2 separate regions of the Homo sapiens genome follow, and region 2 is linked to region 1. The links come from fine-mapping of genetic effects on gene expression. Tissue or cell type: whole blood. Region 1 holds a variant in brackets; the other region holds the start of a gene. All regions are shown on one strand. Distances are between the middles of the regions.

What was found. PIP is the estimated chance that this variant, and not a neighbour inherited with it, causes the effect.
Region 2: MICAL1 starts here. The variant in region 1 is fine-mapped to the expression of MICAL1 in whole blood (TOPMed, PIP above 0.99).

What each region holds. Positions count from the first base shown.
Region 1 is chr6:109,613,607-109,619,133 of GRCh38, reverse strand. AK9 (adenylate kinase 9) reads left to right here. Exons shown (of 41, transcript NM_001145128.3): 13 at 1-42; 14 at 4,654-4,749; 15 at 4,838-4,951. Among named protein-coding and RNA genes, the nearest start is that of AK9, 75 kb to the left of the region's middle. The variant AT/T (reference allele first, on the strand shown) is at 2,742.
Region 2 is chr6:109,453,589-109,458,588 of GRCh38, reverse strand. MICAL1 (microtubule associated monooxygenase, calponin and LIM domain containing 1) reads left to right here and starts at 2,817. Exons shown (of 25, transcript NM_022765.4): 1 at 2,817-2,870; 2 at 4,350-4,650; 3 at 4,744-4,951. The coding sequence starts at 4,393. RefSeq lists silencers at 2,196-3,045, 3,406-3,745 and enhancers at 3,305-3,813, 3,896-3,945, 4,176-4,225.

The DNA of each region.
Region 1 (5,527 bases):
TGAAAGAAAAGCTTCTCAGGGAACTGCAAGCTAGAAAACAAGGTGAAACATCTTTTTAAAATGTGTGTTTTAAGTTTAGGTAAAAATTAAGCCGGGCTACTTGAAAGCAAGGACTTTGTTTAGCTCATCTTGGCATTCTTGGCACTTTACACATTATAGACTCTTAACAAATGGTTGAAGAATGGATGTACATAAACCAATTCAAAAGCAGAGAAAAAAACTTTCAATTCTAGACCTCTAAGGAATGAATCAGAATGAGCCTCTAAATTTGGATTTCTTTCTCCAATGGGTCTACCTTACTGGGCAGACTGTTTGATCAGGATTTACACCTTTATCTACACCAGTCATTAAAACAACAGGAAGAATCCACCTGACTCTTGTGGAGTTTGTTGTTTTAGACTTATATGGCAGTCCTGATTGTGACTAAATCTTTCTATTTGGGAAAGATTAATTTAATGCGATGAAACTAGAAGAAGCCTTTGTGATCACTTAACACCCTTCTCTAATTTTATAGTTGAGAGAACTGAGGTTCATGGAGGTTGAATGGCTCCCTGGAAATCACCCAGCGGGTAGCATAGCTGAGACTTGATCCCTCATTTCCAAAGTCCTGGTGGTCTTTCTCCTGACCATTCTGCCTCTTCCTGTGTCTCACTGACTGTTGATCACATTGCAGAATAGACAAAAAGCGTTTTGTTTTTTTTTTTCTGTTTTTCTCCAGGAAAAATGAGAGTTCTCATTTCATGACTACTTTTGATGTTCATTGATTGGTTTTTGCAGACTTTCTATCTCTAGTTGGTAGTCTTGTAACTAATCATATTAGAACACATGAAAGTAGCTTAATCTAAACCTTTCCTCTTAATGGAATGTCCTTAATGCAACATTTCCTATGTACAACATGGGATCTTCCTCACTTTCAAAAATCTAAATCCAAAATCTGGGATTAGCTTCAGCAATTTTAGCTAGATTCAGTCACCACTGTTCAGAGTCCCAGAAGCTATGGCAGTGCACTCTGTGGCCATCAGTGCATCCATTCCAAATATCCTTTTCCTAATTATGTTTTTCTGATGACAAAAGTAATAATAGCCATTCGTGATGCATTTACTACAGGCTGGAGCTATGCTAACTGCATTGCATGTATTATCCTATTTAATCCTCATGACAAGTTTGCACGGTAGATGTTCTTATGGCCAATTCTAGTGGTTGAAGAAACTCAGAGGGATTATTTAAGAGTCAACAGCCAGCAAGTGATTGGGATTCAAATAAATGTGCTCTTCTTTACTGTGTCTCTCAAGTGAGCACAGAAAACCAGAAAAAGCAGATAGAAGGAAAACTCACTCATACTTAGAACGAGAACCATTCTTATTCTTTGCTGCTCTCTTTTTTTCTATTCATGTTTGTAATGGTTAATTGTGATCCTATGGTATACGCAAAATTACATTCACTGATTTTAAAATAATACTTCTTTCTAATTAAGATGTAATTATTATAATACATTTTGTATTAGATATATCTCTAAATTCATTATTTTTCCCAAATGCTGAGCCAATGTTACAAATAACAATTACTAAATTATCCATAATTTTACTGGAGGTTTGAAATGCCAACTTTATCCTAATATTAAGTTTGTGTGTGTATGTATAAACTTCTGGAATTTCTATTCTATTGATATTTATAGTAAACTTTTAATACATAATGTAATTATCAAAGCTTTATGATACATTTTTACTCTTGTGATAATATAAATCCTCCCTCAAAACATTTTGTTTTAAGTTGTTTCCTGATTATTTCTTCATTTGTTCCATGAAATGGGTGCTTATTGTTTGCCAGAAACTGTACTAGATGTTAGGATGCTTGTAGAATTTTTCTCAAGTTCTACAACAAATCCAAATGGGAGGATTGTATTAATATTATATAATAATTTGGTAAGAGTTCTCATATTTACTATTAGATCTTCTCATGCAGACATGAAATCTCCATTTTTTAGTCTAGTTTTGTCTTTCCATAATATTTGGTAGCTTTCTTCATGTGTTGTCTACAGTTTTCTTAATAAGCTTATTTCCAGATATTTTGTCATTTTATTACTAGTGAATGGGATCTTTTTATAATATTTTCTAAGTAGTTATTAACAGTATGTTGGAAAGCTATTTGATTTTCATATATTTATTTATAACTATCTAGTTTATTAAACTTACTTTCTAGTTCTGATGGACTTTCAGTTGATTCTCTTGGGTTTTCCAGAGAGCTAATCATATAATTTGAAAAGAAGTATAGTTTAAACCCCTCTTTTTCCAATACTTATATTTATTTCCTTTCTTGACTAATTAGGTAGGTGAGCAATTCTAGAATGTCAAATAGTGGTTGTGATACTGACCATCTTTAAAGGGGTTCTGGTCAATATTTCTCCATCAGGTTATTAAGTATTTTTATCTGGAATAGATATTGAAAATTGCCAAAAGCAGTCAAGGTCAGTGGCTCATACCTGTAATCCCAATGCTCTGCGAAGCCAAAGTGGGACGATCTCTTGAGGCTAAGAGTTCAAGATCAGCCTGGGCAACAAAGGGAGACATTATTTCTACCAAAAAAAAAAAATTAGTTGGGTGTGGGGGTCCACACCTGTAGACTCAGCTACTCAGGAGGCTGAGATGGGAGGATCACTTGAGCCCAGGAGGTTGAGGCTGCAGTAAGCTATGATCACATCACCACACTCCAACCTGTGTCAAAAAAAAAAGAAAGAAAAAAAA[AT/T]GAAAATTATCAAATGTATTGCCAGCATCTTTCAAGAAAATCATTAAGTTTTTAATCCTTTGACCTATTGATTTGATCAGTTATACTAATGTATTTTCCAACATTAAACAATTCTTGTATTTCTGAAATAAACCTTACTTCGTTTCAGTTGGACTTTCAGTTGATTCTCTTGGGTTTTCCAGAGAGCTAATCACATAATTTGAAAAGAAGTATAGTTTAAACCCCTCTTTTTCCAATACTTATATTTATTTCCTTTCTTGACTAATTATGTAGGTAAGCAATTAATGTCAAATAGTGGTTGTGATTTTTTTTTTTCTGGCAGAGACAGGGGTCTCAGTATGATGTCCAGGCTGGTCTCTAACTCCTGGCCTCAAGTGATCCTCCGGCCTTGGCCTCCCAAAGTGCTGCGATTACAGGCATGAGCCGCTGTGCCTAGTTTCATTATTCTTATAACATTTTTTTTACTTTTGTTTGTTTATTTAGGACTTTTCCCCTACATTCTTAGGTGTGACTGGTTTATAGTTGAGCGGGGGAGATGTTCTCTATTTGTCAGAGTTTGCTATCGTTTCTTTTTTAACTTTTTACATAAATTGGGAAGCTTCTCAACATTTTGCATGCTTGAAACTATTTAAATAGCAAGGAAATTACTTCTCTGTGTTGAGTTTTTGCTAGATGAGAACACAGTATTTACCTAATAAATCTGCCTCTCTTCTTTCTCAGCCTATAAACAAATAAAATAATTCAACATGGTGCCCAAGAGATTACAAAAAACAACAAAAAGACCAGCACTGAAATTGCATGCCATCCAAATGGTTATCCAGACAATCTAGAGTGAAGTTATATTTTTAGTATAATACCTTCAAAATTAAAATTAAAATTTTAAAATATCTCAGTCAACTTACAAACTGAAGCTGGAGAAATATTGGCTCAGTCTACTAAAGTGGCTTGTTATTCAACCTATTTAAGGCTGGACAAAATGAATTTATTAATTCATTCAACAAATACTTGAATACCTACTTTGTATTAGACTTTATTCTAGGCACCAGCAATACAGATGAGAACAAGACACATGAAGTCCCTATCCTTGTGGTGCTCACATTTTAATAGAAGGCAGAAGGCAAAAAAAAAAAAAAGCCAAGGGAACAGATGGAAAAAAAATACAACATGGTAATGGGGCAGACAGTGATTGGAGTAGGGATACTGAAGTGTTGGGATGCCCAGGGAAGACCTCTCCAAAGAGGGGACGTTTGACTGAGACCTGGACCAAGGCAGGAAGTTAGCCGGGCTCCTGGAGGAAGAACAGTGATCTGTAATGTTTCTTTCACATTAAATTATAACATTAAATCATAGATTTTACAGCTTTCCACAAATTGCCTTCTCCCACTGGAATATAGCAATAGATGCTATCTCTCATATGCTGCAAACTTAAAAGCCTTTTTATTTTCTTTTCCAAATTCACTAATTATTCTAAATCTGACAATAGGAGTAACTCTACTTAAAATTTTAAATTGGAATTTTTTGCTGTTGAAGTTTGCCTCAATATATTTTTAAGAAAAATTTGTCAGTGGAGAATATTGAGGTTTTTTTAACATAAAAATTACATGATTATACAGAGGATGGCAGCTAACATGGAACAGCCTTCCTGTGTGCCAGCATTTTCCAAGTTAAGTATTTATATTCATTACCTCATTTAATCCTCACAGCAGTGCTTTCAGTTTAAAGATCCTCATTTTGCCTAGAAATTGAGACAAAAAGATCAAGTGATTTACCAAAGTCACACAGCCCTTACAGCTTATAAGTCAGAACTGAAACTCAACTGTGTCTAACTTTGAAGCAGGGGCTTTTGGTCACTCTACCTGTTTTTCTATCCCCAACTACGTTTTGCTAACACCACCCATTGTTATATTTCAGCTGAAACAGCTTTAAGAGAATTTCAAAGGCAATATGAAAAAATGGAGTTTGGAGTATTCCCAATGGAGGCAACACACTCATCAATTGATGAAGAAGGTAAAGAAATATATTGCTGATGTTATTGACCAAATCATCCCTAATATAAATAGATTAGCTGATAAAGTATATTATTCTTTCATTGCAGGGTACATTCAAGGCTCCCAAAGGGACAGAGGCAGCTCTTTAGTGGACACCGAAGAAGCCAAAACAAAGTCAGAAAATGTCCTCCATGATCAAGCTGCTAAAGTTGATAAAGATGGTAACAAAGTGAACTGCTAATCCCACGTTTGTGGATCTCATTTTCATTTATTTCATATTTGATTATGTTTATATTTATGCTTAAAATTACCCCCAAAATTGGAAACTTCAGGAGGAAAAAAGCTAAATATTTCCTTATGGATTTAACCTGAACAACTGTAGAACAGAAGTCAATTTATTAGAATAAAGAAGAAAACATATAAATGGGGAGTCAGATACAATTAGAGCCCAAAGAAAAATGTTTGAATGTTTCCAATGTTATAAAATCATTATCATATCATAAATTCTTTTTAAAAGCTCTCTACTTTAACGTATTGGAATCAGAGCATCTTAAGGCCACAATTTTAGCTGTGAAATTTTATCATTTACCCATTGTGCTATTTATCCTTATAAAATTTTTCTATTCATATTTGAACATAAGAGCATATAGCATTACATTATATAATAATTATATGTAATATATTATAGAATAGCTGTAATATATTATAGAATAGCTATAATATAGACTGTTTTTACATTTTTTTACTTATAATGTACCATTTAATTATATTACTTCATTGGGAAATATTTTAACCCT
Region 2 (5,000 bases), 160 kb after region 1:
GTTTCACCCTCGTTGCCCAGGCTGGAGTGCAATGGAACGATCTCAGCTTACCGCAACCTCCACCTCCCGAGTTCAAGCGATTCTCCTGCCTCAGCCTTCCTGAGTAGCTGGGATTACAGGCATGTGCCACCATGCCTGGCTAATTTTGTATTTTTCATAGAGTTGGGGTTTCTCCATGTTGCTCAGGCTGGTCTCGAACTCCCGACCTCAGGTGATCTGCCCGCCTCAGCCTCCCAAAGTGCTGGGATTACAGGCATGAGCCACTGTGCCCAGCCTTAGAATGGGACTCTTTAAACTGACTTCATGTGTCACCCACTTATTTGATCCAATATGAATTGGCCAATGTGATTGTGCCAGTATTTTTAGTTCTACATACACATAATTTGAATCATGACTCAAGATTCTAATTAAGGAGAGAAATTCTTGTGGTTAATAAATAGCTTTAATAGAGTTTTTTTTTTTTTTCTTGGAAGAAATTCTAAGTAGAACTTGGTTTGGGTCTTCTAGTCTGTTCATTTCTTAGGACAGCATTGAATGATAGGATTTTGGAGTAGAAATGGGCTGAGAAGGCTGAGTAATTAAACTGCCTCCATTTAGAGATGGGCAGACGAAGTGTGGTTGGTGACATCCAAGGTCACACTAGGCTAGCGTGAAGCAAAGCTGGAATCCAACCAGACCTTCTGGATTCCAGAACAATGTATTCCCTGCTGCTTTATGCCCCCATGTTAAGTATTTAATTAGCATAAGTTGAAACTTCAAGTCAGCAGTTTTTAGCACTGATGAACTCATTATTGTTCTCTGATCTTCTTTAAAGACAAATTTTATGATGTGTCATTCATAGAGCCACATGACCCTGCTTGGCAAAAGGCATTGAGTCAAGCCAGACCCCACTAAGCCTTTGCAAAGTGGAGCGGCTAGTTGTAGCCGCTGTAGTTGTAGTAAGTGGAGCGGCTAGTTGTGTACCATCTGCTAGTGAAAGGGAAATGAGATTATTCTAGAAGCCAGGGACTGTCTCGGGATCTCTTATGGTCTCTGGATCTCTTATGGTCTCTGGATCTCAAGGACAGCAACCCTCCTCTTTATTCCTCGGTTTTATTAGTGTTTCCAGCGTGACAGTTCACTTCCTCTAAACAAGACATAGCTTCGTATAATGCCAGCCTTTCACGCATCATTTTGAATCAACCCTGGGGTGGTGGAGCCCAGGGTAACCCAGCTGTAGTGGACTTTAGAACGTTTTTACACCATGTATTTAAATATGGGTGTGTCTGATATTCGGCAAATTCATTTCAAGCCAAATGACGTGTCACACTCAAAAGCTAGGATGGGCCCAACTGAGAGGCTGCCCTAGTTTTCTGAGCGTGACCTGGCTGAATTCCCTCGCCTCTCCTGGCAGAGAACAGGCATTTCCCCTTGCTTTCGTCCCACTGCCTGCTTCTCAGCTCGAGCTGGGAACAGTGAGTGTTCAGGTCTTACTGGGTCTCAGATATTTTCCAGATGAAATGCAAAATGAGAATAAAGGGAGAGGCCCTATTCCCTCCCAGCTCTTTATGGTCTCTGGATCTCAAGGACAGCAACCCTCTTATTTATACCTGGGTTTTATTAGTGCTTCCAGTGTAACAGTATCACTTCGTCTAAACAAGAAACAGCATCTTATAATGCCAGCCTTTCATGCGTCATTTTGGGTCAACCCTGGGGTGGTGGAGCCGACAGACCTGGGCCCCCAAACAGCTCTGCCACTTGCTGTGTGCAGATCACAGAACATCTGTGACTCAGTTTCCTTTTTGGTAAAATGGGACTGTTGCAAGCACTGATGTTGAGGTAATACTCATAGGATGACGGTCAATAAATGAGACGATGTTTTTTAATATTAACTAGCTAAAAGACTGGACGCGTCCCTTCACTTTAGGCGCTGTTCCTTATCGGGAATACGACGAAGCTGATCCCAAAGGCCTCTCCAGCCCTTTTCAGCAGACAGTCCCGTGGGTCCTCACTCTAAGGCATTCTTTGAAGACTTGGTCTCTCTTCCACACACCCCTCCCATTCCCCATCTCTTAGTGGTGGTCTAACCCGCCCCGCCATCCCCTTCCCTCTCACTTCTCATATCCATTTGGAAGCTGCAGATTGCTGAGTTTCCAGGACTTTAATCCGCGCCCTTTGCCCTCGGCCCGGGCTTAGGGGTCGACCTCTGTCACAGGAGGCGCACTCTGCGCTTGGATCCATCCTGGGGCGCCCGGGCCGTGGATCTCCAGGTGGGAGACCGGAGGAGAGCGCAGACGTTCCGGCGCCACCCTCGGACCCGCCGGCTTTTCCAAACCTCTTGAGGAGCCTGAGCGCCCTCTCGGCCCGGCGCTGGGAGGCTGCCAGCGGACCTGGGACCGCGGCGGGGGCGGGTGGTCCTCGCCTTGCGGCGGGGAAAGAGCTAGCCTTGCACGCGCAAGCACCGGCAAGGAGCCCAGGCCGAGGGTGCGCGGTCCAGCACTGGGCGCCCTGACCCTCGAGCTCCTCAGCCCCCAACAGGCCAGACCCACCCAGAGGCCCCAGAGCGGAACGGGGTGTCCGCAGCGCCACGCCCTCGGGCGCCACCCTGCAGGCATGGGCGGGCCCAAGACTGTCCCCGCTGGAGGCGGTAGAGGGATCCAGAAGTAATGAGATGCTAATGAGTCGCGAATAAAGCCCGGGCGGCGCCCCGCGCCCCTCGCGGAAGCCCACACTCCGCGCGACTCCAGGCGCACGCCCCGGGCCGCCCCGCATCCCAGCATCCCCGCCCGATCTCGGCGTTTCCGCCCCCGCCCCCGCCCCCGCCCTCCCACCCGCTCAGACCTGGTTGCCAGCCCAACAGGAAGCGGCCCCTCCCGGCTTCGGAGCCGCCGGTAAGTCGTCCAGCGGAGCCGGCTGCGAGCCCCGCGGCCGGGTGGGGTGAGGTGGGGTGCGCTTCCGGGGAAACGCAGCTGCGGTCGCTCGGGAACCACGCCTGGCAGGTCAGGCAGGTCTTCCCTCAGCCCAGCCCTGCTCACGCCGCGTCCGGACTTTGCCGTCCAGTGTCGGGGACCCCCACCGCTGCCGCCCGCGGTCCAGCTCCCTCTCCATCCTTTCAGACCGCTCCACCCCTCTCACAGCCTTTGTCCTGGCGTTTCCAGGCTGGGTCGCTCCTTTCTCCCCTTTCGCCGAGGTCTTCCTCCTTCCACCCTCCACCCCCAAGAAAGATCTTTGCCCTTCCGTCATGAGATTCCGTCTGCCCTCGTCCGGGCCACCCGCAGCGGGAGGCTTTCATCTCCTGTCTCGGCGCGGCGGGCTGGGAACGGAGGGGCAGCTGGATGGTGGAGGGGCCTGAGCCTCAGGGACCTGCCCCCACTGCTGCCATTCACCCTCCCTAACGCTGCCGTGGACACCCGCCTCCTCCATACCCTCTGATACCTTCTGGGCCCCGCGTGAGAAACCCCCTCGGGCACCCTTCAGGTGGCGTGGGAGGGGGCGACAAAGCGAGGCTTTGTCTCCGGAGATTCCTGGGAGAGCGCGCCCGGGCGCACAGGGGGCGGGGCGGGGTAGGGGTCGATCAGGGAGGGGGGAACCTGGGAGGGGCGCACCCGGCTGCGGTCGACCCCCAGCCCTACCCACGGCCCCCTGGAGTAGGGCACATTCACAGAGGAAGTGTTTTGACCACAGTGCGTCAGAAATAGACCCAGGCCTCCGTTCCCCAGTCAGTCGCAACATCCTCCCGCCGTTTGTTGAGGCAGTTTGGTGGAGGGAAGTGGAACCTACGCGGACAGAGGCTGTTTCTCTGTCAGGAGGCAAGCACGAGTGCTGAGGAAAACTTTGCCCTTGCCATGAGACACTTCTCAGACACAGCGTGGCACTGAGGCCATCAAGGGGCGCCGGCACAGGGACGCTTGGAGGGAGATGGGGCAGGATGTATGCTCAGCAGCTGGGGTTGTGGGTATCAGATCTGTCCCTGTGTTGCATGCAAAGGCAGCTCTGTCCTCTCCACATCTAAGAAATCCCCGCACACCCTGATTCCAAGGCCTAAGGAAGGCAGGCTAAGAATTCCTACCCCAGGGCTTGGAGATCCCTGGACAGGGAGGCTGAACTGGAGGCTCCCCTGGTGTCCCATGTGCCCTCTGTGCCCAAGACTAATGTTTTTCACTTCCAAATTTGGCAAATTTCACTTGGAGTGGACTGGATAGCAGCTGTCTCTGGAGCAGATGCTGGCAGGGGAATGGGCTGGGAGGAGCAGAGCCAATCACTGGTGAATCCCGAGCTCCCTGGGGACACCAGCCTGCTCTCTTCGCCTCCCCTTCCTTTTTATTTCTTCTGTTCTCCAGCCTCTTCCCCTTCTTTTTCCACCTCTCCAGCCACTCATCTCTGCCCAGCTGCTGCCCTCCCCAGGAGGCCTCCATGGCTTCACCTACCTCCACCAACCCAGCGCATGCCCACTTTGAGAGCTTCCTGCAGGCCCAGCTGTGCCAGGACGTGCTGAGCAGCTTCCAGGAGCTGTGTGGGGCCCTGGGGCTGGAACCCGGTGGGGGGCTGCCCCAGTACCACAAGATCAAGGACCAGCTCAACTACTGGAGCGCCAAGTCACTGTGGACCAAGCTGGACAAGCGAGCAGGCCAGCCTGTCTACCAGCAGGGCCGGGCCTGCACCAGCACCAAGGTGGATACACGGTGCCTGGGATGGGGTGTGGAGCATGCGGGGAGTCAGAGGACGGACAGGATGCCATGCCCTCACTGCCCTGTGTGTTCACAGTGCCTGGTGGTGGGTGCTGGACCTTGCGGGCTGCGGGTCGCTGTGGAGCTGGCGCTGCTGGGGGCCCGAGTGGTGCTGGTGGAAAAGCGCACCAAGTTCTCTCGCCACAACGTGCTCCACCTCTGGCCCTTCACCATCCACGACCTGCGGGCACTCGGTGCTAAGAAGTTCTACGGGCGCTTCTGCACCGGCACCCTGGACCACATCAGTGAGCACCACGTGGTGGCCTGGAGGGGCGGGTGAGCTTGGGCCTAGAG